Linked DNA regions of Homo sapiens: all the other regions are linked to region 1. Evidence: fine-mapped expression QTL. A gene starts in region 1. Each other region holds a variant in brackets. All regions are shown on one strand. Distances are between the middles of the regions. Region 1 holds the start of LNCRNA-IUR (lncRNA imatinib upregulated). Region 2 overlaps SESN3 (sestrin 3). Region 3 holds the start of SESN3 (sestrin 3). Region 4 overlaps SESN3 (sestrin 3).

Region 1 (6,159 bases):
GCAGCATCTCCGTTTTTCCAGCTGCTTGGAGTCATCCCTGATTCCTGTCTTTTTCTCATACCCAAAAAAACAATCAGACAGAAAATCTTATATATATGTAAATCTTCGCCCCGGTTGGAGTGCAATGGCGCAATCTCGGCTCACTGAAACCTCTGCCTCCTGGGTTCACGCTATTCTCTTGCCTCAGCCTCCCGAGTAGGTGGGATTAAGGGTGCACACCATCACACCCAGCTAATGTTTTGTATTTTTATTGATTGATTGATTGACTGAGACAGAGTCTCGCTCTGTCGCCCAGGCTGGAGTGCCGTGGCGCCATCTCGGCTCACTGCAAGCTCTGCCTCCCAGGTTCACACCATTCTCCTGCCACAGCCTCCCGAGTAGCTGGGACTACGGGCACCTGCCACCACTCCCTGCTAATTTTTTTTTTTTTTTTTTTTTAGTAGAGACGGGGTTTCACCGTGTTAGCCAGGATGGTCTCGATCTCCTGACCTCTTGATCCGCTCACCTTGGCCTCCCAAAGTGCTGGGATTACAGGCGTGAGCCACCGCGCCCGGCCTTTTATCCTACTTTCAAAAAACATACCCAGAGTCTGAGTGTTTCTCCTTACCTCCAGCGCCACTCCATGGCCCGAGCTCTGTTTCACCTGGTTCTCACCTGGATCGCGGCCTCCAATTTGCGCAGTGACCCCTACAGTCTATTCTCCAAACAGCAGCTGGCGTGGTCATTATGAAAAGCAATGTCCACCTGCTGCTCAAAAACCCACGAATGGCTCCCCATTTCTTTCCCATTAAAGCCAAAGTCTAAAACATTTACAAAGCGTTATATGATCAGTTCCTACCTGCTTTCCTTATGTTGGAGGCTGTGAAGCTCCTTAATATATAAACAGTTCTCAGGAGAAGGAATAAAAGCACAGCCACCTCCTCAGCAGAGCCAGTTTACACTCTGCTAGAGACAAGAGGAGCTGGGACCTTCTCCCCTAACCCTTACTGCATATGTGAGAGAAGCCAGACCTGCTGGATCGACTGGAAATGCCCAGTGCCTGAGACGGGGAGGAAAGAGAAGCCGTGGGGAGGAAAAGACTGTAAACCTAAAAGGCATTGAAGTCCCACCTCACCAGTTAGGCAGGGAGGAGAAAGAGGCCTAGGGCGCTCGGGAACTTGGAATAAGGTTGCCCTCTGCGGGTGAAACTGTGAAATATCTCACAGTGGAGGAGGGCGGAGACTGTTCGCAGAGGGGCCCGGCGAAAACGTCACCCTACTGGAGGTACGAACGCATCGCAGACTGGGGGCGCCCGAGCGCATCCCAGACGCGAGGGCAAAGGCCCAGGAGGACTGTGGGGCTCTCGGAAGTATCCGATCACCTTGCGAGGAGTCCGCCGGCTGTCCGAGCCTGATGTCACTGCAACTTCGATTCCTCCGACGCCCCTACTCTTACTTCCCAGTCTTCAGGCAACTTCTCCGCTTCGGCCTCCCCTAGGCCTTGGCCCCAGAGAGGGGACGCACTCCACAGGTGGATTCGCACGTGTGGGCCCTCGGCAGCACTTTCTCGTGCAAATTAACAGGTGGCCCTCATTGTGGAAGCACCGCCCAGCCTTTCCCGGGGAGGTCACCAGGGCGAGGCCGCTCAAGGTCTGCAGGCGCCCGGCGTTAGCGGGATCCTCCCCGCGCACTGGTCCGAGGAGGCCAGGAGAGGGCGAACCAGTCCCCGACCAGCGGCCCTTCCGGGGGTGGGCTCTGACCCCACCGAGCGGTTAGAGGGTCCAGGAGCTCCAAAGGGTAGGGCAGAATTGGGTAGATGAGGGTGCATTTTTCTGGGAGGAGTCTAAGGCGTCGCTGACTCTCAAAGGCCCGCATCCGGAGAAAGGGAAAGAGCCCCGTCCCGGGAGGAAGGACGAGAGGCTGGCCCGCGGGAAGGAGCCCTGGCAGTCCCTCCTGGCCTAGGTCTACCTCTTTGATCTCACCGTCCCCGTGGCGGCGAGTGCCACCAAAGATGAGAGAGGCCAGCAGGTATCGGGAGAGAGCTGAGGGGTCGGCGCCGGCGGGACCCCAGATTGGAGCCGCCGTCGTCGGACGGGCAGACCCTGCTGTAATAGCTCCCGGCCGGCCACGGTAGGCAGGTGGGGCCCACCGCGAGTCCTAGTGAAAAACACCTTCCTCTTGATTCTCTCAAAGGAACCCGAGCCCTGGGAAGGGACATCAAGGCGCTCCCGAGACTCCGGAGACGGCCAACAGCCCCAAAAGAGAGTACTCGGCTATCCAGCCGCCCTTATCCAAGCGGAGAATCTCTCTCCACCTCCGCCCTCCCGGGACTCAAAGTTGTTTGTGGAGCCTCCAGGTTTCCTTGTAGATGGGCACGATATGCACTGTGTGCGCGCGCGCGCACACACACACACACACACACACACACACACACACACACGTATATGTATTTTTCCAGTGGCCACTGCAGGATTGCCAGCTTTCGGAAATGAGCATCCGCTCTCTCTCTCGGGACTGGGCGTGGGGTTCACCGAAAGGAGAGGAAGAGACCTTGCGTTTGCGCTGGGCCTGCTCGATGCCAGGCCATTCTAGGCTTCTGTCTATCCTGGTTTCTGGTCTGTGCGTTGTGGGTAGCAGCATTGGCGTATTACGCCGGAGGGAGCAGGCTGAGCGAGGCTCCAGAAGGTGCGCAATAGCCGGAGAGGAAAGGGCGATGCTGTCACCTAGCCCCCTCCCTGAGACTCCATTCAGCCCAGAAAAAGGAGCTGCTTTCTCCCCCATCTACCCTAGGAGAAAATAAACGGTCGCTGGCATTTTCCTGCGTCTTTTAATTTTGCCAGAACTGTTTTGGGTTGGCTATTGTGGGCCAGGATGGAGGCCTTCTCCTCCCGGGAGCAAACCTGCCCACGCCCAGGCCGGCAGTGGAGTCAGCCTTGCCCCAGCCTGCCCTCCAGGGAAACAATGCCCCTTTGTCCCTCGCCCTCCCGGGGCTGATACAGCCCCTCCCCTTAGCTTAGGGCTCCCTCCCGTTAGAGCATTCCAATGATTGCCACAAGTCACACTTTTCTTTGAGGTCTCTGCCTGGGAAGAAAACAAAGCAGCCCTCCTAATCACACGGAGGGAGTGGAACTTTTCCTGCCCTCTGACTATGTGCCAGCCTTGGCTCCTCCCTGAAGCCCTGTCTAGAGGGCTTATTAGGTCACTTATGTTTTGTACCTCGTGTGAAGTCCCACAATCAGTAGATTATAGAGGGGAGCACAAACCCAGCAGTGTCTGACATAGAGAAATTACACATACATACATACACACATACATACATACATACACACACACACATACACACATACATATACATACATACATACATACATACACACACATACATACACACATACATACACACATACACATACATACATACATACATATATACATACATATATATAGTCTTTCCACCACCCAGGATTGAAAATTAATGCTGTTTTTGACATTGTCCGTTATCCACCCAAACCCTCCAAAAAGGCTGGCTGGCATTTGCTTGGCTCTAGTTCTACCTGCCCACCTTCTCCTTTGCCTAATCCTGAGTTTTCCCCTTCCCCACGTGTGTTCCCCTTGAGCACTTTTTTGCTAACTTCCTGCATGCTACTGTCATCTCAGAGACTGATTCCTGGGGAGCCCAACCTGTAACATGGAGCTCAGTGGAAAGCACATGGAATGTGGACTGAGACATGACTGTGTTCAAACCCTGGCTCTGTCGCTAAGTGGTTACTTGGTTTGGGGCAAGGCATTTAATCCCTCTAAAGTTCACTTTCATCTGGGGGGAAAAGATAACTGTGAGGATTAAGTGAGTTTATATATAGTGTATGAGTGCCTGGACCACTGAAGCAGTGCAGCAGATGTTAGCTCCTCCTTCAGTAATATTTATTGAACATGGCATCCCAAGTGTTACTAGAATTTATATTTCTACTTTATAAATTTTACTAGAATTTATGTTTTCATATTCTTGATACTAATACTGCATTTTTGAAAGGGGTGACTCCTTCCTTATTAAAGTTTTAGAACACTATCCTAAGTGAAGTACAATGGTTACTAAATTAGATGACATCTGGATCTGGCTGATCTTGAACAAGCAGGTTAATCATATAACTTAGCTAGGTCATTGTGAAATTTTCTCCTGTGTAGAAAGAGATATTAATAGTAACTACTGTGGCAGATGGCATTTTCCATAAATGCCTACAAAATACTTTCCATCTCAGCTGCTCTTCAGAAATGACCTTGCCATTCCTCCATCAACAGATGAAATCTAATTCCCCTTCTTTTGCATCTGGGCTGGCCTCAGGGACTTACTTGGGCATTGGAATGTGGCAAAAGTGATGGTCTGGGACTTCCAAGGCTAGTTCATACAAGCTAAGTCATTCTGTGTGAGTCTTTTGGGATGTTCCCTCTTCCAACCCAGCCACCATACTGTGAGAAGCCTGAACACTTGGAAAGCCATGTGTAGGTGCTCTGGCTAACAGTCCCAGCCAACAGCAAGCATCAACTGCCCACCGAGTGAGCTCTCCTGACATCCAGCACCTTTGGGCCTTCTGAAGACTGCAGCACCAGCCCACATCTGGGACCCCAAAAAGAATGGGAATAAACTGAGCCCAGTTAGTATACAAACCAAGACAGATAATAATAAATGGTTGTTTTAAGCCATTAAGTTATGGAGTGGTTTGTTATGCAGCAATAGAAACTAAATCACTAGCTCCTAGGGTTATGTGAAATCAAGGAAGACAATGCATGCAAACTGATTACTAATGTGCTTCGTAAATAATTAATACGGTTGCAGAAAAAAGTAAGCTGATTATATGGGGAGATAAAACATGGGCACAAATAACTGCAAAACTAAGCAGGCATCATCTGAATCAATATTTAGTGGGCACCTATCCCATGCCAGACTGTCTACATAATCATAGAATCTCCAAGTAGAACAGAATTTGGGAGCTATTCTAGTTCAACCTCCCACTTAGTGAGGACATTTCTTCTTGAATGCTTGTTTAATACAACTATTATTTATTAAGCCTCGCTCCGCACCAGAAAGTGTGGTAGATGGTAATGTCAGGAAGTGGGATAGAAAGATAACTAAGACACAGCCCAGGGCCAGAGGCAAACACATGAAGAGTTTCTGCTCAGTGTCATATGTGCAGGGAGAGAGGATACGAAGAAGACAGATGCATTTCCCCTGCATGGAATGGGGTGAGTCATCTCACTATCGGCCAGCTCTGCTGATTCAGCTTCCTGGTGCTCTGGATTCTGCTGATATATTTTCTGTGCATCAACTTGTATTCTGAGTGGCAGTTCTCCAGCTCTTTGCCTTCTTGCTCCATATACCTAAGTTGGCTGTTTACACATCCACTTACCCATCTTTGCTCAAAGCTGACCCTTGTCAAGGAAGGAGGGGTTTGCCTGGATCTTGAACACCAGCCTGTGGGCTCTTTAAGGCCAATGCCTGGATCTTGTTCATCATTGAGGCCCCAGCTCCTAGAGGCACCAAAATAAAACAAAACAAAAGAGAGAGAGAGAAGAAGAAGAAAACAGCCACCAAAAAAATGCATTTCTTTTTGTGTGGGTTCAGAAAAATGCCAGAGATTCATTTAATTCAAATTTATTTCACACAACTACATCAGGGAAAATTAGCAGTGTAATCTGCTTTCTCAAGTTTCATGAGCAACGCTAAGTTTTTAATAGGCTGAGTGTTTAATAGGCAAGTAAAATCAGCCAACAAACAAACAAACAAAAAAACGCTGGAGTTCGAGTCCTTTACAGCCAAGTAGTTGGCAGCTGCTACGGTTATTAGCTATCATAGTTTCCCACATGCAGCCATGTTTTATGGCTTCTTAAAATTGTTTTTAAAAATGTTTCACAAACCATGGGTTTCACACAAATATAAGGGTTAGAATTTCAATTTTAAAAAATAAACATAAGTTTGGTGTCACATCAGAGAAAGCTCTAGTTTTCTCCTTTTAAGAAACAGAGGAGGTAACTCACCAGAGCAGAGGAGTCATCTGAATTGGGCCCTTTATTCTCAGCCTAACCTGCTGAGGAGCGTCATCTACAACTCACAAGGTACTGGGAGCAGGAGAATTTGCATGGATAGACAAAAGTTTGCTTCATTGCTCAGTTTCCCTTTAATCATTTC
Region 2 (6,159 bases), 35 kb before region 1:
TTTTTTTAAGCCATGGGAGATACATAGGAAGGATAAGATTCTAGTAATGATTCTGCATGAGAGTAAGTAGGACTTTGGTGACTGGCAGGATGTGAGGATGGAGAAAGTGGGTGGGACAAGAGAGTGACTAAGGTGTCCTTCTTCATGACATGAGCATATACAGGCTGACAACAACTAAAAATGACATCCACAAAGTGATGTCCACTTACTAAAGGAAATACAGGTCTGTAACTCAAGATAAAGTGTGAGTTAAAAGTAAAATTGGATAGTTGTTTACAGATAAGCAAAGGTCAGGTTGAAGGAATGAATGGCCCATCCAAGGAGATACTGTACAAGGAAGGAAGATTGTGGATGGAATACAGCAATAGAGAAAGATCTTTCTCAGGGTAGCAAGAGTACTTCCCTCCCCAAAATGTGGAATTGTTGAAGTCAAGAGAGATTAATGTCAGGAAGGGAGAAGGTAAACAATGTAAATTCTGCAGAGATCAAATAAAATAAGGACTAAAAAGAAATAGTCAAATTTGGCCATTTGGAAGGTCATGTGTAATATTAGTAAATGTAGCTTCTGGAGTTTGCTTGAAAAAGAAACCAGATTGTAATGAATTTTTAAAAGTAGAAATGAATGTGAGGCAAGAAATTAGAGATGGTGAGTGTTGGCTGTCCTTTCAGGTTTAATGATAATCCTGCAGAGATTGGTGAGGGCATTGTAAATTCTAACAGTCCTTTTGGAAAGCTCTTTGGCAGTATTATCAAAAGTCATAAAAATATTAATACACTTTGTTCTAAAAATCCTATTAGGAAATGTTTCTAAAATAAGAATAAAACTATAGTATGAAGATGCTGTTTATAGAAGCAAATAAACAAAACAAATTTAGAATATGAATAATGGTATAGGAAAGGAGAAGTAGTTATATACATCTGTTGATATACAGGAGAGGCCTTGCTTAAAAATTAATATGGCACTGTGGCCTAATGAAAAATGAACATGTCAAAATGTCAAATTTGAAAATCAGAAAAATATAGATATGTGTGGTTGTAACTATATAATTGCTTATAAAAAATAAAATATGTAAAAGTTAGAGTGGTAGAATTTTTTTCAGTCAATATTGCAACCATTTAGTATATTTTGTGGCTACAAGGTTAGGTACATACAGATGTAAAGCAAGTATATTTTTCTGGTGTATATTCTTTTATTATTCAATAATGACCCTCTTTATTTACATTATTACAGATTATAATAATGATATTTTTGTCTTAAGATCACTTTTTAAATTTTATTTTTTAATTAACACATAATTGTACATATCCATGGGGTACATAGTGATATTTTGATAATATATAATGTACAATGACCAGATTAATTAGGATACCCATCATCTCAAACATTTATTATTTCTTTGTGTTGGGAATGTTCAATATCTTCCTTCTAACTATTTGAAACTGTATGTTATTGTTAACTATAGTCATCCTACAGTGGTATGGAACACTAGAATTTATTCCTTCTATCTAGCTATAATTTTGTTCTTTAACAGATCTTTTCCTATCTCCCCTGGCCATAGGATGATAGAATTTGACTGATTTTCTTTTCTTTTCCCTGAGCTTTTGGTAATACATTAAATTATATATGGTGTGTAGTTAAATAGTGGGTAGTAAAGCAAAAGAAAGCAGTTTTATTTTTATTTTGTTTTGTTTTGTTTTGTTTTAGCCATTAAGTAAGCCAAATGAAAGTTTTAGATTTGGAAGGAGGGAAAGAGAGGGATGAGATTCCCCCTTACATACACCACACACACACACACACACACACACACACACACACACACACACACACAGTGAGAGATAGAGAGAGAGAAAGGGAGAGAAAATGAACACCGATGGGAAAGAATCCCTGATGGATTAATTGGTGGAATTCACTCTTGGACAAAGTGGAGGAATTACTGTTTTTAATGACTTCATTTGTGATCCATCATTCAGCTGGAGGGTCAAGTGAAATACAGAATATGAAAAAGTGCTTGGAAATTTTTAAAATTCTTATTCAGATGTGAGGTAGTATTCTACAATTTCTGTCATCTGCTGCAGGTTCTTTCTCCATTAGAAGGTATCTAAAGGATAACTGAAACTTGACTTGCTGAATTGGGGTTTTTCGTGATTTTGTGAGATGAAGTTTCCAATATACCTTAAAATGAATGGTTTTGTTCGATAATCTTTAAAGTCCTATCTAGCTCCAGTGTTCTTTGATTCTCTAAAAGTATTTCATTAAAATAGCATACTATATAAAAAATGATTTGGAAGCAGAAGATTTATTGTATAATAAGGGATTTAGAAGACACTACAATGTAATTATATTGTTAGGTATGATAGTTTTAATGGCGCATTGGCCAAAATCATATCTTTAACATGTGAAACATTTTTAAAAGAGAGTTTTAAGTTTTATTACTCTAAGTGGATATATGAAAATTGGTAGATTTTCATTGAAATTTCTTTGTAGCATTCTAGAATTTTTATATTTGCTCTGATTTGCTTTCTTATTTCAGAAACTTGTCAAAACTGGAGAAAATAATTGGTCTCTGCCTGAACTGGTACATGCTGTGGTCCTCCTGGCACATTATCATGCTTTGGCAAGCTTTGTTTTTGGTAGTGGTATCAATCCAGAGAGAGATCCAGAAATCTCCAATGGATTCAGGCTAATATCAGTCAACAATTTCTGCGTTTGTGATCTTGCTAATGACAACAACATAGAGAATGCATCTCTTTCAGGCAGCAACTTTGGGGTTAGTTTTCTTAGCTATTTTTCTTTACTATTTTTGCTTTAAACTTCTAATATTAAAAATATCTAGAGAGAATTTTTCTCCAATTAGATAGGATATTATATACTTAAAATATTTTTGCATAATTTTTATTACTGTAAAAATTTGGTACCTGAAGTTCTGATTTATTTTAAAGAGGCTTTTAAAGCAAATACATATTACTGCAAATCATAAAGACTAAACAGTGATGCATTCTAGTGATCATAGGCTTTTAATGTTAGACCCTTTGGACAGTAGATCCCAAAACAATATACTTGTATGTATAAGATGCTGGAACAACCAATGGAAAACATACCTTATGACAGCAAAAAGTAAAACAATTGTGCTGCCTCATTTTTTTAAACTAAACTATAATATTTAATATATACCAAATGCTAGAATTGTAGATTTTATGCACACACATATATACTTATAAACTTCTATATTTATAACTAAAAAAAAAATCATACTTCTGAAAATGTTGGAATCTGTCATGATTTCCTTTGAAATTGGTGA[A/C]AAACCGACTTAAGAACTTCATAACTGTGCCTGTTCCGCTGTACATAGTAAGGTGACATTTGGAGATGGAGATATTTACTGGAACACTTTTAGTATGAATAGCACCCAACATTATCTTATCTGTTTCCAGATTGTGGATTCTCTAAGTGAGCTAGAGGCCTTAATGGAAAGGATGAAAAGACTTCAAGAAGAAAGGGAAGATGAAGAGGCGTCTCAAGAAGAAATGAGCACTCGTTTTGAAAAGGAGAAGAAAGAAAGTCTTTTTGTGGTCTCTGGAGATACTTTTCATTCATTTCCTCATTCAGGTGCTTTTTTGCACTTTTTTGCCTTTTAGTTGTTCTTAGAACCCTGACAGGGCAACTTCAGTGTTTTCCATGTGGATATGTAAAAATGATTCTGCTACCATCTTTCTCTTATTTAGTTCTCCTCTTCTATCTTACCCTCATGCTATTGCTTTCCCTCAGGCTGGTTCATCCTTGAATGTATTTCAGATTGAGTTGAGAGAAACTTTCAGCTTTGTAGTTCATACTCTATCCTGGATAAAATGTTATTTAAAGCAGATCAGTTACTTATAAAGTTAGATAGACATATTTAATTTATCCTACTTTTGTGATTTTTTAAAAATGATAAGTGAAATATTGTTTCAATAGATAAAATTTTAAAAAAAACTGCCTTTTTTGTAGGTGGGGGGTGTGTGGGAAGATTATTCTCACACTGCTGCTTTTCCAGATTAGTTCTAAAATTACACTGCATTTGCATTTACATTTCTTTGGAATTCTATAAAAATGTATTATTTAGGTCATTTTCTTAGACTGAATTTGGAGGAATTCATCCTGTGTTAAAAGCTGAGATTCTTTGCTGTAGTCTTGAAAACAGTTTTTCTAATACTCGAAGGACTGAAATAGGAAATAAACTTTTCAATTACAACTAAAAAGATATTGAACACCACATAGTAAATGATATTAAAATAGCATAGACTCAATACAAAGTTTAAACTCTTTAAAAGTAATCTATGTGCATAACTTTTTTTTTTTTTTTTTTTTGAGACAGAGTCTTGCTCTGTCACCCAGGGTGGAGTTCAGTGACGTGATCTTGGCTCACTGCAACCTCCGTCTCCTAGGTTCAAGCGGTTCTCTTGTCTCAGCCTCCTGAGTAGCTGGGATCACACATAATATATTTTTTAAAAATAGAGTTCTGTTGATCTAAAAGAGGGCTTCAAAACTACTGCCTGTCTTAAAACTCATCAATCTCATAAATTTTGAGAATTGTTTCAGCCGTAACTTGTTAATGTTAAACATAAAACATTGATCAGTAGTTCTCAGTTTTACCAGGAAGAACAAGAACCCTTTTTATCATTTCTCCTGATGATCTTTTTTATGAAAAATTTTATCTACCAAATTGAGTAACCATTTTAATCCTTTCAATTAATTTAATCCATTGAAGATTACTGTCACTAAAATCAGAGCCTCTAGTCAGCAGGAAATTCCAAACAAAGAAACCTAGTATTTGGATTATTGGTTTAATATTCACTCTGCAAACACTTACTGAGTACCTGATAGAGTTTCAGCATGGTGTTAGGTACTAAGGTTTTAAGGTTAAATAAGGCATGATTCCTGCTCTCAGGGCACTCTCATTCTAGTAGCAAAAAAATAATTGTAACTCATAGCAGAATGTGAAAGATAGGAGCCTAGAAGAGGGCACTGAACCCAGTCTTGATAGGCAAAGGGTGTAGGCAGAAGAGGAACCTAGAGGAAGAATGCCTGCAGCCCTTGGCTCTAAGATAAATCTTAACCCAGTTGAGTGTGAGGAAGTCAGGTAATGACTGAGGGGCACAGGAGGACATGGTAAACAGCATCCAGGCCCAAGCAAAGGCACGATGGTAAGGAAACAGGATGCTGGGTCCAAGAACAAGTGGTTCTGTGTTGTTAGGACGTACATCATGAAACAGGTAGTGTAAAGAGAAATCTGGTTAGGTAGGTAGAGTCCCTACTGTAAGGATCTTGCTAACCTTAAGAAATATGTAACCTACCGTATTTTGGACATTTTGAGTAGAGATGTCTATAAAACAACCAGTCTGGAAATGTCTTGCACAGCACTTCTCAAACTTCAGTGTTCATGAGTCACTTGGGGAATCTTGTTGAGATGCAGAAGTTGAATCAGTCAGTTTAGGGTAGGGCCTGAGAGGCCACATTTCTATCAAGCCTCCAAGTAATGCCAGTGCTGCTAGTATGCAAGCCACTCTTGGAATACAAAGGGTAGAAGAGATGGGAAATCAGGAGAGGGCTTTAAGGTCAAGGCAAAATTTTAGAAGTTATCAGCATATAACTGGGAACAGACATTAAAAGTTGATTATAAAATTCATCCAGAGAGAAGAGGTGAGGTTGAAGGAAAATAATGACTCTATGATGAACCTTCTAGGTAAACTAATGTCTAAAAATGTAAACATTTATATTAAAGTTAGTAATATCTGTGTGTTTTCAGAAATTAATTTTTAAGAGCTTCATTAAGATCACTAAAGCTTGAAAAATATCAATGTTTTATTTCTCTTAGGTCTTTTGAAATATTAAAAATATACTTTGGATTTCAGTCTCTACCTTCTTGGAACTTTAAGCTGGGACTACAGCCTTCAAAAGTGAATTTTGACTAGAAAGTCTTGGACCTTAGCCAAAAATTATGTTCTAATTTTAATAGAAGAGGCTATTTCAAGGAAATAATGTCAGTATACATACATATACCCCTCCGCATACATATATATTCACATATATACACACATATATATAAAAATACATATTTCACTCTTAATCATTGCCAGTACCAACTTTGCTGGCTGCACAAATAAAATATAGAAAAAAGACTCAGT
Region 3 (6,159 bases), 79 kb before region 1:
TTTAAGCTTTAGAAGAGGTAGGTTTGTCCCAATAGTTTTAAACGACAATTTGTTCTCTGAACCTTCCTTTCTGAGCAGGGCGCTGTGCTCTGCATGTATCCGAACAGCTGCCTCAGGAAGGTCTTTTGGGTGAGAAAACAAGCCCCTTTGGCCTTTTAGTGCTGGACAAGTAAATGAACTTACATCTCTAAGATAACTGCTAGAAGGTGCTTCACAAACAAGAGGAAACCGCTAAACCAGAGGTTTTGTGTCTCTCCCCTCAAACTCGATTACTTGCGTAAATATATATATAACTCAGACATTTATCCCCTATCCGCCTCCCAAGCCTCAAGTAACTGAAATCTTTGCAAAACAAGGTTCACAATAAATGATGCGTAAAGTTCTTTGAGATCCCTGGATACAAAGTACTACATAACTGCAGTCTTCTTTACAGCTAAAGTTAGATTTTGGTGGAGAGAAAGCCTAACCACTGCCCTGAAGGAAGGAACATTTAATCCTCCCACTCCCCTCCCCCTTTCTCGAGAGATCAGGAAATATTTAGCTCAATCTTAGACTCTCTAGCGAGCTCTAGCTCCCAACTATTTATCTCATTCTCCTCACCACTTCTGCAGGGACCTAGAGAAGGGGGCGTAGCTTATCTTGGGGGTGGGGCTTGGAGGGCAGTATATTTGCATATGACACACCCTCGTCCTCTTATTGGCAGAGGAGAGCAAACTGTTCCCTGCTACCCTACTACTTAGCTAACCGCCACCTCCCTTCAGTTCCGAGCCTCGGAGATAAACTTAACTTGCCCGGAGATTCAAGGCTTCCTCGGCCCCTGCGATTGGCCGGCGCGACTCCCAGTCGGGCTCTCGTTGCTCATTGGCTGCGGGCTAGCGCCCTGGGGGCGTAGCCGGAGCTGTCCGATTGGCGGGAGGGGCGGTACCGGAGCGTGGAGGTGGTGAAGGTGGTGGGGCGGCGGAGGCGGGGCCGCACTGAGGCGCTGCGGCGGCGGTGGTGGCGGTGGCAGCGGTGGCGGCTGCTCGTCCTAGCCTGGCGGGGGCGGGGGTCTGGAAGATGGGGGCGGGTGGAACAACGGGCCGGTGAGGAGCAGCCGCCGCCGTCTCCGCCGTCGCTGGGGCAGCTGCCGCGGTGGTCGCCTCTGGCAGTGCCGCTAGCTTTCAGGCAGTCGCCTCTCCTCCCGACATCCCGCCTTGAGGAGGCTGAGGCGGAATCGCGGCTGGCGGCGGGGGGACGGACCGGCCCTGCAGTGGCCGCAGTGACAGCCCGGACCCGGCCCTCCGCCCGCTCTCGCCTCGGCGCCCGCAGCCACGATGAACCGGGGCGGCGGCAGCCCGTCGGCCGCCGCCAACTACCTGCTCTGTACCAACTGCCGGAAAGTGCTGCGGAAGGTACGGGTTCGGCCCGGGGTCCTGCCGGCGAGGGTCGCTTCCTGCCGGCCGGGGCTCGGGCGGCTCGTCCCCGGGCGCGCACTGGGGGAGGCTGAGAGGGATCCCCGGGCACCGTCCCTCCGCAGGGACTGAGAAAGGGGGCGTGGGTTGAGGGCAGGAGGGTTTGGACTACTGCGGCTTTTTATTTCCGCCGGGACAGACCCAAGTCTGGAGGGGTTGGGATATTTTTTCTTCCCTTGTTCCTTTTATTTGGTGCCTTTGCTCTCCTTTACGGCTCATTTCCCTACCTTGCTACCCCGGGTCGGCTCCTTGGGCGGAGGGCGGGAGGGATCCGTTCGATCCTCCTCCCTGTGCAGTTTAGCTGTTGATGGAGGTCGGTGTGAAATCAGAGCAGCTGGGTCGGATCCCGAGGAACCTGGCCCCTCTTTGCTGTGGCTAACTCTTGCGAGTGTTGTTTTTGTTTATTCGGTTGCTTCTGCCTTGCGCGCCTTGCTCAACAACCCCCGTTTTCAAATTGTTTGGATGGTAGTCCTGTGTCTGTAGTTCAGTCTCGAAAGGAACCAGTAAAGCATCTTGAACTTTATGCCCATGGGAAATGCAATTCGACCTGGCCAGTTCCTGAGGCTGGGGTTGGGGGAGGAGAAGACTGAGGTGGATGTGGGTTATTCCTCCTTAGCACCCCCCT[G/C]CCCCCGTGTTGATCCAGAAAAATGAGGCGCACCATCAGTTTATTGCTGCTTCCTAGAGTGACTGATAGAAAGTTTACTCCAGTATTGTTTAGCTTACTTGGCTTAATCGCCCCGCGGGGAAGGGCGAGAGGGATGGGGAAGGGAATGAAAAAAAGGTCTCTAGACTTTTTGATCAGATTTTAACAGCTGCCCCAAAGTAATATTATAATCAGTTTATTCGTATTCAAACTCTATTTTTACATTTTATTAAGTGGAAACGTTAGGTGAGATGCTTCTGTTTGTTCACTACAAATGAATTAAAATTGCTGAGCTGTGCAAATGCATCGGGACTGAAAGCGGAGATGAATATGGTACCGTTTTTAGTCAACATCTCTAAATACGGTTCACTTTGGGATTGTTCTTTCTACATTTTTTTTTAAAAAAGGAAGAAAGAAAAAAGCACATAAGTAAGCAAGCTCAAATATTTGCGCTCTTTGTCCAAAAACTGTTTTTCTTCCTCTGTGGGTCAGGCCAAGTGCCAATCAAAGTTGTTTTTCAAGCCTCTTTTCCCTGCAGTAGGGCTGCTGCTTTTTTTTTTCTTCCTATTTTATTTGAGAGCGTGAGAGCAAAGGGATTGCAGATTTGAGGTTAATTGAACAGTTAAATATGCCTTAAATTGTGTTTATTGGATATGTTTCTCTTGAAACAGATTTTTATTAAATGTGCATGTTGAGTATGTGCAGTTATTTTTTTCCATAAACTCTAGGATCAAATTACAGTTGATACTTGCTCAGCTCATTGTAGGGTAGCTTGTGAGAAATGTAATGGATCAGAAGTGCAGATCAGCTTAGTTGGATGTTAACTCTTTCACTGCAGGGCCAGATGTCATCTGAACTTAGCTTTCAAAAAAATTTATTTCTTAATTTTTAAATTTATGTTATGTCTTTGACATGAAAAAATGTGTCATTTAAGACATGTTTGATTAAAGTGCAGCCTGGTTAAAATGACAGCAAGTTATGCTTTTTAATTGAATAAGGAAAAAGAGCACTGTATTGACTTTGATAAAAAAATTTTTTAATGGCTCTGGCAATTTGTTAGGCTAATAAAATGTTTGGAGGTAATATTAGGCTTCAAAATGTATTTCATTTTTCTTTTGAGAGAGCTATGGCTATGGATCCATGACACTTTGCTAGCATTTAAGATATTACATCTTTCCTTTAGCTTTTAGGAAACTATTTCTGTTTACCTAGAAAGAACATCCTCATTTCTAGCCATTATTAAAAGAAACGTGGAAAAAGAGTATTCACATTTTCGTATTTTATAATTGCTGAGCACATCTCTGCCAGTATTCCAGTTTTTAGTAACTCCAAGGTATTTAATATTGATTCATGCAGTGGCATGAAATAACTTAATGGAAATAGGATTCTTTGAGCCAGTTATAACATGACTTGGCAACATTTGCAGCTTTTTAAAGAGTGCCACTTTGAAGTGCTCTTAAGAGAATCAGTATGTAGCATTTTAAATGTTTCATCATTCTTAAAATAACAATGAAAAGTTTATTTCTAATAAAGACATGTTTTTCTTGTTGATATAACTCTAAGTTAAAAGTCATCTATAACTCTCAAAATGTGATTCTTAGAGTTTATCTTGTTTTCCATTTAATAAAGTGTTCAGTAATGTAGCCAAGTGAGTCATAGTATTTTGAATGTTTGTTCAGTCTAATTCATAATGGAAGAATGAAACTCATGCTCATCCAGTGTGAATTACTTTTGCTTTTATATTTCTATATAATGATGGAAGAAGGGTCACCTTTATATGGGACAGAAAGTGTTATTCTCTCAGTAGGTGGCTTAATTTGTTGCAGTGTGTTGAATTTTAGGGGAACTTCACAAGGAATGGAATTCACCTTCAAATGAAATAATATGGTTTAACCCAATGCCTGAATATTGAATTATATATTGTATGAGAATTACATTTATTCTTAGAAGTCCGTTTACGGTTTTGATTTAGTATCCTCCAAAATAAAGAGACTTATTAAAATATTGAATGTACCTAATTTGGTAACCTTAGGACAGTAAAAAGAATGGAGAGGTAAACCATATCCATAAATAAATTAACCATCAAAACTATCCTGAAATCCCTAACTCTTAAGTCTAACTTGCTCTATTGTCAATGAGGTAGTTCAGTAAAGTTTTTAATAAAAGAGGAAATGCTTCTATTTATTTTGTAAAGTTAACGAGTTTTTAAGTTTAATCTTTTACTTGAAGAAATTCTAGTGATAACTAGAAGAACATAATCCTTTAATTTGAAAAGTCATGTGTCAAACTGCATTGAGGAAGGTAGGTAATTATCAGTCCACTCATCTTCCAGTAAATAAAAAAGTGGCATATTCCAATGTACTTTGGGTATTGAGCAGTTAGTGCTACTTAAATGAATAGTTTTGTGCTCTTTAGAGGATCTAACATTTAAACTTTTTTAATGTTAAGATAGTTATAGTGATATATCTTTGTATTGTTATTGCACTTTTCACTTTGTTATATGATCATATATTTTGACATCTTTTTGATGGTTTTATAAACAAAGATACTGTCAAAATGAAAAATACTAGATTGAGGACCGGGCATGGTGGCTTACGCCTGTAATCCCAGCACTTTGGGAGGCCAAGGTGGGCAGATCACGAGGTCAAAAGATCGAGACCATCCTGGCCAACATGGTGAAACCCCATATCTACTAAAAATACAAAAATTAGCTGGGCGTGGAATCGTGTGCCTGTAGTCCCAGTTACTCAGGAGGCTGAGGCAGGAGAATCACTTGAACCTGGGAGGCGGAGGTTGTGGTGAGCCAAGGTTGTGGTGAGCCAAGGTCACGCCACTGCACTGCAGCCTGAGCAACAAGAGCAAAACTCTGTCTCAAAAAAAAAGACAAAAAAAAAAAAGAAAAATACTAGATTGAACTATATGAGCCTCATTTTTATAGTCAAAATTGTTAAGTAATAGCAACTTTATATGGTTTAGCCAATAAAATGTATTTGCTCTATCTGTGGACCACTAGTTACATTATGCCTTGGTTAATCAGTTTTCTTGTGTTACATATTTTTGATTGTCAAAGGCAGTTTTTAACTTGATTATCTTAAATATCCTAAGCAGAGATCAAGTAGTTAATTAGTGATGGCAAACCTTTATGCAATGGTTTTCAAACTGCTTCGTATGGACCCTTAAGATTCTTTGGGGTTTTAAAATGCTTGAGTTGCATTAAATTTTTAAGTATGTTTTAACTTATTTTAAAACTGTAATTTAAAAATATGGGTACCCCCAAATATGTACACATAATTTTAATAACTGGAGTCTAACACCATTATCTTTCATTACAAAATTATTCTTGTGCAGGTCTTGAATTACAATTTGTTCTGCTATCTTTGTACAGATATTTGAATTTTTTTTTGTTACTGTGTCATGTATGAGAAAGATTGTCATTGATTGTGAAGGAACTGGCTTTTTAAAAAGAATTCCTTCCATATTTACTTAAGTTAAATGTTTACTTGTGAGAACACAAATTTATTGTTATCAGTAGTTGTAACTTTATTACTAAAATACTTGAAAGTTGCTTGGTATATTTATATGCTTTATAGTTCAGGTTCAATAGAAGATTTAATTTGTAAAAAGTGTTCTGCTGCTTCCCCCAACTCCCCACCCTAAATAAATAGAAAACATAACTACTAATGTAGTGATACTGGAAGCCACAGATGTGGTTGCAGTTAGGTCTTTAACAGATCTTTTGATTTCAAAGCAGAGTTTTCTCTGTAAAATGTTGATAATTTTTACTTGCCTTACAGATTGCTGTATAGTTGGAGAGAGATAGATGTGTGTTAATGAACTTTATAAACCGTGTAAGAAAGAAAAGGACAAGTCCATATATTTTTCCATTTTCCCAGACTATGTTAGTTCTTTCCGTCTTATGGGAATATATTTCAATACATACTGAGTAATTTGGTTAATACTCACTTTTCTGTCCTGTTTAATTATTGCCTGTAAATGAGAGGTAAAGATTATGCTTTTAGTCAGAATGACTTTTTTTTTTTTTTTTACTTATTTTTGATTTCCATA
Region 4 (6,159 bases), 46 kb before region 1:
TCCACTAGCCACATGTGGCTGTTAAACACTTGACATGTGGCTAGTACAATTGAACTCTAAATTCTTAACTTTATTTAATGTTAATCAGCTTAAATTTAAATAGGCACATGTGGCTAGTGACAGCGAAAGAAACTCAAGGACTTGTTTTGGTTTTTCACAGAAATAAATAAGATTTATTATTTAAAAGCCATTGTATAAGATTCACTAGATCTTTGACTAAATGATCAAACTCATTTATTCCCAAAAGTAAGATAGTAGCTTTAGCTGAAATGCTTAGAGAAAAACATAGCAATATTATTCCTCAAAATTAGTGCAGCCACTGCATATTTTCACTTATAGCATAGAGCAATCCTTGAATTTTTCTAATCAAGTAGCATCTGTTGAGAAAATATAGCTGTTTTCGTTTTGGGTTCTTTTTTTTTTTTTTTGACATTGAGGAAAATAAGCAGAAGAAAAATAAAAATATTTTATATTATGCTTTGTGTGTTTTACATTTTTATGCGGTATCTTCTCAAAGCTTCCCAACAATGGGGTAAGCTACAGTCTAGAATTGATATTATTCTCACTTGTGAGGGGAAAGGTTTCTTGGCATGAGAGAAATCTTACAACTGAGTAGGGGGTGTGGAAAGGATGACTTAAAGATTTAGTTGGTAAAAGACAGTTACAGGATTTAGCAACCATTTGAATGCAGGCCCCTAGGATAAAGAGTCCAAGATAACTGTGAATCTGAGCCAGGGTTGCTGGTATGTATGGTGATTTTATAACCTACAGAGGAAAGTGAGGAGGAACAGCTGGTTTGAGATAGAAGATTCATTTTAAACATGTTGATTTTAAGGTGCTAATGTTGCATCCAGGTTATGTCACAAAATACCCAAAGCCAGACTGGAGGGCGGAGAAGAGCTAGCGAGTTCTCTAGATAAAAAAGATTCAGGAGGCAGTTGCATGGGTTGCTCATTTTCGTATCCTGTGCCCTTATTTTTTCCTTCATCTGCTCCATCGTCTTCCCTACAATATAGTCACCATAACAAATTTGAGTAGAATTTTGTTTTGTGTAAAGAATATGGTAGCCATAGAAGAGAACATTGACTTGAAAGAATAATATTTATAAGGAAGGAGTTGCAAGGAACATCTAGGAAACATAAAAGTAAATGATCAAAGAAGTTAATGGGTTGGGTGGTAAAGTGTTATGGAAGCTCAGCAACTCGGGAGGCTGAGGCAGGAGAATCGCTTGAGCCCGGGAGGCAGAGGTTGCAGTGAGCTGAGATTGTGCCATTGCACTGCAGCCTGGGCAACAAGAGTGAAACTCTGTCTCAAAAAAAAAAAAAAAAGAAAAGAAAAGGAAGCCCAAAAAGAAGAGAGTTGCCCAGAAGGAGGTAGATTTGACTTGTGCAAAGAGGTAAGAAAGCAGGGGATTACATAGGGAGAATCTCAGCTGTGATCTAAAGACTGTGTTTACATAAAAAGCAAAAGGTAGAATGGTGGTTCCTAGACCTAGGGGTAGGGAGAAATGGGAGTTGCTGTTCAATGGCAATAAAATTTCAGTTATGTGAGAAGAAAAAGTCCTAGACCTCCTCTGTACAACATCATGCATATAGTTAACAATACTGGGGTTGTACACTTAATTTAAAAGGGTAAACCTTGGGTGTTATTTATTTATTACCACAAGAAAGAAAGAAGGAAGGAAAGTGAGCGTGCCCTTGATACTTTTCTGGGGACTGTAATGTAAGCAGAAATTGAGACAAGGGTCCTTGGAACTGGCTGATAGTTTTTTTTCTTCCTAATTTGCCCAAATAGGACAAATAGGTTGATTGGTTCAGAGCATTTCTGCAATTACACTAAAATGCTTGGTTCTGGGATTGAGTAGGTGTGACCATCAAATGAATAACTCTGTGGAGCAGTCATTTAACATTTCAAAAAGTTATAAAAATGTCTGAAAATGCAATTTTAAAAAAGCAAAACCAAATGAGTCCAGAGCAGCACTGTCCGGTAGAACTGTCTGCAGTGGAAGATGGAAATGTCTGCGCTGTCCTGTAGAGTACACGTGGTCCTATGTGGCTGCCGAGCATCTGAAATGTGGTTAATGTGGCTAAGAAACTGTGTTTTTAACTTTATTTAATTTTAATTCATTTAAATTTAGCCATATGTGGCTGATGCTTACCATGTTGGGGAACGTAGGTCTAGAGACTTTAGAAAAGTTAGTATGAGTGAAGTAGGAACTTGGTCCTTGGACATTTGGGATTTGAAAGAAAGGCGGAGGAAAGGCATTATAATTTGACCAGAACTCTAGCTTATGGTCTTATCTTAAAAAAAAAAAAATCAATCTTTTGGATATAGTACTATCCTATTTCTTTTGTATTTGATCTTACTGACTTTAAAAGCATGCAGAGATAGAAAAGTGGGTGGAAACAAATTTTCAGAATGAAATGTGTTTAGAGTAGAATTTATGAACTGTGATCATTTTTAAAATTGTATTTCACCTTCCTATGAATAGACAGAGCAGCCAACTGAGACAATACAGTAGTAGAGTCCTTGCCAGAAAAGATTCTCCTTATGCAGAAGCAGAAACTAGACTGATCATTTCAAAAATGGCAACATTAAAAAATATAATTGAAGAAGAATACATGATGTTAAAACTTAAAAATTGTGTTAGTTTTCTTTTATGTT[C/T]GGTATATAAACAAATATTTTAGGTCGGGCCATATTTTATCTCTCCTGGACTATCACCAGAGCTTCCCAGCTGGGATTTTTCCCTCTCAGGCCCAGGGTCTACATCACCCTCAACACTATTAAAAACACAGATCTGATCCACATCTCTGCTTAAGAACTTTTTACTACAAAGAAGCATACAATAAAACGCTTCAAACACGTTTTTGAATGCTGCTTTTTACTTTTGAAATTAGTGAGTTAAGTGGACATTTTCTCAGCCGATGAAAATAAAATTGGTAAGACATTTTTGTTAGCACATTGGCAGTAAGCAACAAGAAGTTTGAAGATATTTATAACCCAAACCATAGTAAGTCCACTTCTGGGAATCTTCCTAAAGAAACTATCGTAAACACAACAAAATATGTCCCAAGTCTCTTTATATGAAGGTGTTCATCACAGGATTACTTATAATAGTGAAAACTGTATATAACTAAAATGTTCAACAGTAGGAAAATGACTTAAGTAAATGATAATTGCTAAAATGATGTCTTCTTTCATCACTTTTTGTATGCATCTGCGATGGTATATGTCATACGCCGTAGCTGGTTATATGCATTCTGCCAATCTAATTCTTATTTGTGTCCTCACTGCCTAGCACATTGTAGATGCTCAATTAATGTTTGCTAAATAAATGAAGAAATCAGTGTTGACACAAATGAAATTGAGTTTAAGTTGCTTCTTTTCAATTGCTAAACACTAAGGGATGTTATATTCATTTAAATGCAGTACCTTTCAGTTCCATTTATAATGAAAATATTTTTTTCAGATTTAAATCTCACCTGTTCCAGAAAATATTTAAAGTAATAATATGAAACATTTAAAGGTAAATTTAGTTGCTAACTGTATCAAATTGTGATTTTTATCAACAAATTTAATAAATCATTTTTTGTTTCCAAAATCCCATTGTCCATCTTAACGTGAGTTTATATTTTGCTCCCCCTACATGTTCTCTAAATTTTATGTATTTTTTATTATTTAAAGATTTCGATTTATCTCCCTGTTGAAATTTTTTTCCTCAAACCTCATAATCATAATTTTTCCTCATAATCAGTTTTTCCAGCTGCTTTGTTCATTTGAAATGAATAGTTGTCCAGAAAATTGCTTTTCATATACTACTTCGTTAAGTTTGTTGTTGTGGTGGTTTTGTGAGATGAGGTCTCACTCTGTCACCTGGGCTGGAGTGCAGTGGTGCGATCATAGCTTACTTTAACCTTGTAGTTCATTGAGTTATACAGAGAGTGTTCGAAATTTTTTTTTCTATATCTTATGGAGACTAGCAAAAGGAAGAAACCTGTTATTTTCCTTTAAATTATCTTTCTGGGTAAGTCTAGATTTGGTTGACATAGACAAGAAATACCAATATTGGAATCCTGACTTCATCCTCTTAACATGCAGTCCTCCAGTGTACTTGACCAGGAGATTGAGGCCTTTGTCATAATTTTGTAAATATAACCTAGAAATATAAAGTTATTTCTGAAACTTTACCAGGTTAAGAGTATTATTGTTTAATATATTTATTTCAATAGAACTCCCAAAATTGATGAAGATTGTGTGTACAGCTCATGAGGGCAGAGAGCATATCTGTTTTCCTCACCCTGTATCCTCAAAGTCTATCACAGTATCTGATTAGGCTCTCAAAAAAATCGTGTTAAATGCCTGACTGCCTACTTTCACCAATTTGTTTTGTAACTGGTTCCTAATGAAGTAAAGGATTTAAGAGATATAAATAACTATTTTGTGTTTGATAGGCTGTTTGATTGTAAGGACCAAAAAAGACTCAGGTTACCTAGTAATGGGGGGAGAAAGGGAGGGTGAGAAGAAGGACCCTATTCTCTGATTCGAATTTTTATGGCTTGTATCGCACTTAATGAGGATACTAAAATATTTTTCAATCTAAAAAAGTTAACAAATTTTTAAAAACTTAAAAAAAAATCAGCATTCAGACATACCATTGGCAATCTGTCAGTTGTTAATACCACCAATAGAATAGCAAGTGGAACAATAAGAATTACTATGTTCCCCATTCTTTATATTGAACTAACCTCTCCTTCTCTAATTTTTACATTTTTCTTAAAGTTTCAAAACTTCATATTAGATATGCTTATTGCTATTTTAGGGGAAAAAAAGCAGACTGGGTAATTGCTTTGAAGGGTTGTTATGTAATCTTCTTCGAATTTAACCTTTTATTTAGTTTTCAAATTGATGTCTAACAGTATACTACTATAAAACACTATTTTATTATGGAGGTTAATGGTTTTCAGGCATGTCAGATGTGGGCTTAAAGTTTATGGTGTAGACTGTGACTAAGGGATATGACATTTTGAGGAGGCTGTGCTGCACTTAGCACTATGGTAGGTGTTTGCCCCATTATCTCATCCATACAGTGGCCCTATGGGTTTTCTTTGATCTGAAACCCAACACTTACTCTGGTCTCACATAATTTAATTATTTATTCTCTTTATTTTAGTACCTTAGCAATAAATGTGTACAAATTTAACATTTCTTAGAAAGTCATCATTGATACATAAAACTTTTCTTTTAAAAATAGGATAAAAGAATCAGAGTGTCTCAACCCTTGACAAGAGGACCAAGTGCCTTTATTCCAGAGAAGGAAGTAAGTTTATCTGTCTTAAAATATAAAAAGTAAGATTTAAAAATAACTTAACTGTATCAAAGAATATCTCCTGTTAATATGAAAGTAGGAATGAATTTTGCTTTTGAGTTTCTTGTTCACATGTCAGAAAACCATGGAGATATTTTCTTTTCAGCTTCACAAATATTTACAGAGTGCCAATTATTGTCTTAAAAGAAGGGACTAGTAGAAATAGAATAATACCTGATCATTGCCAGAGTCAACAGTTCTTTCATCATCAGATCACCTTTTTAGTGACCTTCCCACCTAAGTGCAGATCCAAAGTGACAGTAACATTTCGGGAGCTCAGTGACAATAGCTGATCTCGGTGAGGACGATGCACCATGCACTGGAGAAGCTATCCTGCTTATGCCTATTTTCCTCAGATAGCCTGGGGCTGCTCTAAGTTGCCTACTACATATAAAGACTTCCTGAAGCATAGTCATTTTTCACAGTATATATTTGAGGATAATCTGGTTTTTAGGATCTATTGCATCATATGAATCTATTAATGTATCTTAAGCATCCAGTTAGAACAAACTTATGCTGGGAAAGCAAAACAAAAATAACAAATATTCTACTTCTAATTATATGTGGTTCATCTGGATCCCATTATATTTTTAACTGTCTTGGTCCCTGTAGTTGACAAAATGGTGGGGAAGTGAGCAAATCAAAGTATACTTGGCTCCATAATGAGTTACGCCATTGTAGTTAACATTTCCTCACAATTTATACTTTTCAAACATTATGTTTCCTTTGGGATTAAATTTCCCTAAGTTAGTAGTGCCTTTGTATAATGTGTACTTATTTTTCAGACTGCGAAG

Evidence for each region. PIP is the estimated chance that this variant, and not a neighbour inherited with it, causes the effect.
Region 2: its variant is fine-mapped to the expression of LNCRNA-IUR in whole blood (INTERVAL, PIP above 0.99).
Region 3: its variant is fine-mapped to the expression of LNCRNA-IUR in whole blood (TOPMed, PIP 0.98).
Region 4: its variant is fine-mapped to the expression of LNCRNA-IUR in whole blood (INTERVAL, PIP above 0.99).

What each region holds. Positions count from the first base shown.
Region 1 is chr11:95,146,704-95,152,862 of GRCh38, reverse strand. LNCRNA-IUR (lncRNA imatinib upregulated) reads right to left here and starts at 2,324. Exons shown (of 3, transcript NR_110303.1): 1 at 1,115-2,324. RefSeq lists a silencer at 1,095-1,204, enhancers at 1,725-1,854, 1,455-1,996, 1,997-2,538 and a cis regulatory region at 4,924-5,554.
Region 2 is chr11:95,181,865-95,188,023 of GRCh38, reverse strand. It overlaps SESN3 (sestrin 3), which reads left to right. Exons shown (of 10, transcript NM_144665.4): 5 at 2,532-2,768; 6 at 3,430-3,604. Among named protein-coding and RNA genes, the nearest start is that of LNCRNA-IUR, 34 kb to the right of the region's middle. The variant A/C (reference allele first, on the strand shown) is at 3,300.
Region 3 is chr11:95,226,015-95,232,173 of GRCh38, reverse strand. SESN3 (sestrin 3) reads left to right here and starts at 972. Exons shown (of 10, transcript NM_144665.4): 1 at 972-1,391. The coding sequence starts at 1,314. LOC100129203 (a long non-coding RNA gene) reads right to left here and starts at 1,988. Exons shown (of 6, transcript NR_110295.2): 1 at 1,679-1,988; 2 at 601-1,049; 3 at 1-122. RefSeq lists an enhancer at 1-593 and silencers at 949-1,098, 1,109-1,418. The variant G/C (reference allele first, on the strand shown) is at 2,077.
Region 4 is chr11:95,192,615-95,198,773 of GRCh38, reverse strand. SESN3 (sestrin 3) reads left to right here. Exons shown (of 10, transcript NM_144665.4): 2 at 5,252-5,317. Among named protein-coding and RNA genes, the nearest start is that of SESN3, 36 kb to the left of the region's middle. The variant C/T (reference allele first, on the strand shown) is at 2,665.